Linked DNA regions of Homo sapiens. The protein of the gene in region 2 purifies or fractionates together with the protein of the main gene of each other region. This does not show direct contact. Each region holds a gene or a part of one and is shown on either strand. Other genes may lie near its edges.

Region 1 (2,889 bases), on a different chromosome or scaffold from region 2:
GCCCAGCCATTACCCTCCAAAGTCCCAGCTGCAGACAGGATGCAATTGAGCATTTGGCTTTGGGATGCTTTACTGCAGGTGCGGGGGGTATCCATCTTATATCTGGGGGCCCACACTGTCCCGTAGGGGGCCTATGTCTGTTGGATATTGCTGGTTTGGCTGCCACTGGGAGTGGGGCGAGGGTCCCAGCATTGAGAGGGAGAGCCTTAGGCAGTGTTGTGACGCACCTGTCACTCCTTCAGATCAGAGCCCTGTGCCCTAGCCACGGTTTTCAATGAGGAATGGTCTGACCTTGCTGCCCTTCCTGGGACCGCCTGTGGTGGCACAAAGGGTGCTAGAGGCACTCAGCCAGGCCCTGCCAACCGTGGGAGGGTACCCTTTGATCTGGGGGGAGAAGCAGAGAGGAGGGATGTGGTGGCCCCTGAAGTGAGAGTCCCAGTTCTGCGGAAGCCCAGTGGGAAGGAGGCTGGCAGCTCCCAAGGCCCTGCACCCAGTCTGGTCCCCTCAGCCCCCCAGAGCCCCTGGCCCAGAGCTAGGGCTTTGTGGGCCACCTGAAGGCTCCTTCCTCATGCCCCTAGGGGGCTGGCCATGCATTTCCAGTGTCTTCTTCCTTTCCCCTTTCCCTGGCTGCCACCAGGTGGGAGGTGACCCGAAGCAAGACTTGCTTTAGGAACGGGCAGCGTTTGAAGAACCCCATCAGCCTTCTCCAGCTCTTTTTTTTTTTTTTTTTTGGTTGGGGGTAAGGGGCCTGTGCCCCCTCGGCTCAGGAGGAGGGTGGGAGAGGAGGGCGTGTGCCTCAGAGAACCGTTTCCTGCCCCCAGGCCTGGAGGCCCCAAAGGCGCCAGAGGAGCTGGGAGCCCCTGTCCCTGGAGCGGAGCCAGCGCGGGCGAGGGCATGGAGGGGGCGTCGGCCCAGGACACGCGGGCGAAGGCAGCTTTTGCAGTGCAGCGTGGGGCCCGGGGGCCCGGCCCGCGACTCGACTCATCTCGATTCGACCGGCGGGCGGCGGCGAGAGGAGGCCAAGGCCTGGGCTGCCCGGTCTCTGCGCGTCCCGACTCCGCCGCGCCCGCCAGCCCCACCTGCTACTTCTTTTTGGGGAAGAAGCTGAATCTCTTCTCCTTGTCTTTCTTGCCGAGGCTGGCGTCGGGGCCGGAGAGGGAAGGCAGGGGCAGGCTCTGCGCCTTGACGCGGATGCTCTGGGACTCGTTGATGGCGGTGCTCACGCCCTGCAGCCAGGACAGCATCTCCTCCTGCGGGGCGGAGGGTCACGGTGGAGTCTGGAGGCCCACAGCCCCCCACCTCCCGGGCCAGGCAACAATGGTGGGGGCTCTTGGGACTGCCCCTTCTGAGGGGGCCTCCAGGGCAAGCGGCCTGGGGTCCTCCACCTACCCCCTTCTTAGCCAGGTCTGGGCTAGGCTGCCCGCGCTTACCTCATCCTTGCCATGGAAGAGCCACTCGCTGCCATTACTCAGCCTAGGAGGACAAAGGGTTTCCTGTCATGGAGACACCTCTGGAGGGGGCGCTGGGCAGAGGGCTGGCTCTGATCCCACAATACCCTGAGCCGAACATCCAGACCCCTCTCAGGCAGCCCAGCACTTTCTGAGAGGTCAAAGTCTGGACCATCAGCCTCTTTGATTTGAAAAACCCCTGAGGAGCAGCTCAGGCCTGGCACTGGTCCCCTACAGAGGGCCTCTGCCCTGCCACTAATGCCAAATCAAGCCATCAACCCGAGCTTTCAAAGGCCAGGAAGGCCTCACCTCAGCTTAAAGACGTGCTTCTTCTTCTTGTAGTTGGCAGCAATCTCACAGATGGCATGTCTCAGGGCCAGGGGTTCCTCCCCATGGTAGGGCATCCCCAGGGCCAGGTTCTTGGCATCCTTGTAGAAGGTTAGCTCACTGTTCCTGAGCACACAGTACAGGTTGTTCCAGGACCTGCAAAGATGCAGACAGGCAGGTCACCCACATCCTGATATGGTATCTCTAGAGTCAATTCCTATAGCTTCACCATTAAAAAAAATTACACCATGTTTGTTCTGATACATAGTAACATGTTTTATTGTTAAAAAATCATCTGCATGTAATTTCATTACAAAAAATTAGCTATTATTAACATTTTATGTATTCCTTCTAGTCTTCACATTTTCGCATTTTTTTTTTTACTAGTCACAGATAGCTAAAACTGGGTTATGGATATATTCAATTTTATATCGTGTTTCTAAGCATAACACTAAATCATGAGTATTTCTCCATATCCTCAAATATTTCTTTTTTTGCCAGGCAAGATGGCTAACACTTGTAATCCCAGCACTTTGGGAGGCCGAGGCGGGCGGACCGCCTGAGGTCAGGAGTTCAAGACCAGCCTGGCAAACGTGGTAAAACCCCATCTCTACTAAAAATACAAAAATTAGCCGGGCTTGGTGGCGCATGCCTGCAGTCTCAGCTACTCAGGAGGCTGAGACAGGAGAATCGCTTGAACCCGGGAGGCGAAGCTTGTAGTGAGCCGAGATTGAGCCACTGCACTTCAGCCTGGGTGACAGAGACGAGACTTAGTCTCAAAAAAAAAGTATATATGTAATATATATTTATATATACTTTTATTATATAATTTATATAATATTTACATATTTATTATATAACATATATACCTATTATGTATAATATATATTTATATGAAATATATAAATATATAAAATATGTATATTACATTATATATCATATACTATATAATACATATTTTATACATCATATAATGTATATTTTATACATTATATATAATACATTATATATTATACATTATGTTATATATTATATATGTAGCAATTATATATTATATAATATATAACATTTATAGTATATAACATTTATATATTATACATAATATATATAATAT
Region 2 (3,827 bases):
AAATTTAAGATCCACATGAGAGAGGATTGAGCACCGCCTTTGAGAAGGTAGTTGGGCAAGGGATCTAATTAAATAAGTCTTGGAAAGGAGAGAGACTGTCCTGCCTTAAAGAACAGAATGAAAGTGAGAGAGAGTGAAAAGAGATTTTTTTTTTTTTTAAGATGGAGTCTTGCTCTGTTGCCCAGGCTGGAGTGCAGTGGTGCAATCTTGGCTCACTGCAACCTCTGCTCCGAGGTTCAAGTGATTCTCCTGCCCCAGCCTCCCGCGTAGCTGGGATTACAGGAGCCTGCCACCAATGCCCAACTGATTTTTATATTTTTAGTAGAGATGGGGTTTTACCACGTTGGCCAGGCTGGTCTTGAATTCCTAACCTCAAGTGATCCACCTGCCTTGGCCTTCCGAAGTGCTGGGATTACAGGCGTGAGCCCCTGCGCCTGGCCTGAAAAGAGATTTTGAATGGAGCTAAGTAAGAGAAGTGAAGTTGAGGTATGTCAAGTTGAAGTTCTCGGTTTTCTCAGTAAGAGCAGAGACAAGGTCACTTGCAGGTAATGAAGTGGTGGGATTTGAGAAGGGATTTCAGAGATTGGAGACTGCTCTGGGCAATGTGGTATAGAATGTAACATGTTATGAAGGGATTTCAGAATACCTGTGAGAACCCAGCTGAAGTCATCATGGAATTGTAGTTTTTCTAAATATTGTCGTTTTGTGATTTTTTTTTCCTAGCTAAGAGTAATTACAGTAGTGTATTCATTAGCAGTGTGGGAGCACATAATATCAAAAGAATGAACCATTTTTGAGTGGCATTGAACATATTACTGAAATAATTAACCAGAAAATCCATGCTTGGTAGGAAAATTAGTAAAGTCAAAATGTGGGTACTAGACCAGGAATAGAGGGAAGATGAAATAATAAGAATGGTGAAGATGGCCAGATGTGGTGGGTCGCCCCTGTAATCCCAACACTGTGGGAGGCTGAGGCAGGCATATCACTTGAGCTCAGGTTTTCAAGACCAGCTTGGGCAACATGATGAAACCTCGTCTCTATAAAAAATATAAAAATTAACCAGGCATGGTTGTGTGCACCTGTGGTCCCAGCTACTCCAGAGGCTGAGGTAGGAGGATTGCTTGAGCCTGGGAGGTGGAGGTTGCAGTGAACCCTGATCATGCCCTGCACTCCAGCCTGGGTGACAGAGTGAGACCCCATCTCAAAAAAAAAACCTCAAAAAGCAAACAACAACAACAACGAAAATGGTGAAGATGGCCAGGGGCAATGAAGGAATGAGAGGAAGGACAAGAGTTTATTAGGATGGAAACTGCCGAGCAAGATAGGAAGGTATCATTTAAATTAACTAAGAACTAACCCAACTCTTGGGTGACTGTATATGTCATAGGTAGCCGTCATGGTAGCAAAGCCTCTATGCCTGTTGTTCTTAGCAGGGGTACGCAGATGAATGGTCTGTAGAACACTTTAAATATAAATGCTCAATCCTCCAAATATTCTACTAGTAATAGGTCTGGGATCTATATCCTCTAGGCTGTGCAATCCAGTATGATAGCCACTGGCCACATGTCACTTTTAAGTACTCAAAATATCTGAATTGAGATCTTCTATAGGTGTAACCTATATAAGGGATTTTGAAGACTGAGTGTGAAAAAAATGTAAAATAATCTTAGCAATTTAAAAATATTATCGGTTGAGCATCACTCAAAACCTGAAATCTGAAATGCTCCAAAATCCCAAATGTCTTGAGTGCCAGCATGACACCACAATGGGAAAATTTTACACCTGACCTCACATGATGGGTCACAATCAAAACGCAGGTGCACAACCCACAGTTTATTTAGCCTGCTGTTGTTAGTTGTTGCTGTTGTTTAACAGCTGAGACCGGCGGTTTATTGGTTGTTTTAATGAGGATGCTAATAGGTGGCTACCTATATCAGTTGGGATCTTAGGAAAAATGTCCAATTTATTATATCACATCTTTTGGCTGGTGGGGGAGAGTGGTTCCTGTGGCAATGGTTTACACTAATTTGGGAAGCCCACACTAAAGGATGAAGTATTATTTGAGCTATAGTAGCACATTATTACTTCTAATGCCTTTTCAAGAGCTGACTGCCAGCAGATATATTTCACTTTATGTAAATAACTCTGAATTGTCTAGGACCTGATTTATTTATTCCCTTTTTTATTTCTCCTTTAAAGGAAATTACATAAGTATACTCCATATTACGTCGTTGCTTGATAATTTGAAATTGTCTATTTTTGGTTGGGCCAAAAAGATGGGATTTGTAGCTGGGGGAGGGGATGCAATTTTTTTGAACAAAGTTTCTCCCAAGGTATTGGACATTATCAGAAATAGAACAAAATGAATTGTGCTTTTTAAAAGATCTTCCTGGAATGTATATATGTTTACTACCATCTCTTTTTAAGACAAATACTCACAAAGTTCTATTCTTTGAAGAAAGGCTCTGCCATTCTATATTTCTTTTTAAAAATAAATGTTATTTTACAGGACTCCCTGTATTAAAAAAAAAATGCCACTGCGTCTTTTTTGTCTTTTTTACATCTCCTTTTTTCATACTTATATAAATATGCTTAATCAGAGTGCATTTTAATTCATACTTTATGTTTAAAATAGGTTTTGCTGATTTGGGAAAATAAAGACTATGGATCAACTAGGAGTATTGTTCGTATTATTGGGAAAATGCTTCCACTGGAACCTTGTCGAAGACCTAATTTTGAGGTAAGTCAGTCAACATAAATTGTTTAAGTACCAAGTACAAAATAATCCTAGGTACTCTTACAGGTATGGGGTAGAACAACAAAGGAAGAAACATTTCCTGCAAGCCAAAAACCTGTAGTTTACCCTTGGGAACAAGCCATTTCATATATGTTTTTGTGTTTTTGTTTATTTAAATACAATCATGCATCGTTTAATGATGGGGGGATACATTTTGAGAAAAGCGTTGTTTGGTGATTTTGTCATTGTGCAAACATCACAGAGTGTACTGGCACAAACCTAGATGGTATATGGCCTATTATGCACCCAGGCTATATGGTATGACCTGTTGCTTCTAGTCTGCAAACCTTTTCAGCATGTTACTTTACCGAATACTGTAGGCAGTTGTTACACAATGGTAAGTGTTTGTGTGTCTAAACATAGAAAAAGTATGGTAACAATGCAGTAAAAATTAGATAAAAAATGTTACGTCCGTATAGGGCACCTACCATGAATGGAAGATGGGAAGTTGCTCTGGGTGAGTCAGTGAGTGGTGAGTGAATTTGAAGGCCTAGGACATTACTGTACACTACTGTAGACTTTATAAACACTGTACACTTAGGCTACACTAAATTTATACAAAAACCCTTTCTTCAATAATACATTAACCTTAGCTTACTGTAACTTTTTTTATAAATGTTTTTATTTTGTAAAAATTTTTGACTCTTTTGTAATAATACTTATCTTAAAACACACATTGTACTGCTATACAAAATATTTTTATATCCTTATTCTATAAGCTTTTTATGATTTAAAAATTTTTAAATTTTTTATACTTTTAAAATTTTTTTGTTAAAACTAAGACACAAGCACACACGTTAGCCTAGGCCTACCCAGGGCAGAATCATCAATATCACTGCCTTCTACCTCCACATCTTGTCCTACTGGAAGGCCTTCAGTGGCAATAACATGCATGGAGCTCTCATCTCCTATAATAACAATACCTTCTCCTGGAATACCTCCTGAAGGACCTTCCTGAGGCTGTGGTATAGTTAACTTTTTTTTTTTTTTTTTAAGATAAGGTCTTGCTGTCGCCCAGGCTGAACGA

The links.
Region 1: the proteins of MTFR2 (region 2) and SPTB purify together in Homo sapiens (affinity purification with mass spectrometry; one large-scale study listed by BioGRID and IntAct). This does not show direct contact.

What each region holds. Positions count from the first base shown.
Region 1 is NC_000014.9:64,748,224-64,751,112, forward strand, and holds part of SPTB (spectrin beta chain, erythrocytic), read right to left. Parts: intron 2,027-2,889; exon of another isoform or gene 1,932-2,026; coding exon 1,758-1,931; exon of another isoform or gene 1,474-1,757; coding exon 1,431-1,473; exon of another isoform or gene 1,251-1,430; coding exon 1,083-1,250; 3' UTR 1-1,082.
Region 2 is NC_000006.12:136,243,681-136,247,507, reverse strand, and holds part of MTFR2 (mitochondrial fission regulator 2), read left to right. Parts: exon of another isoform or gene 1-47; intron 48-2,638; coding exon 2,639-2,743; intron 2,744-3,827. UniProt on the Homo sapiens protein: May play a role in mitochondrial aerobic respiration essentially in the testis. Can also promote mitochondrial fission.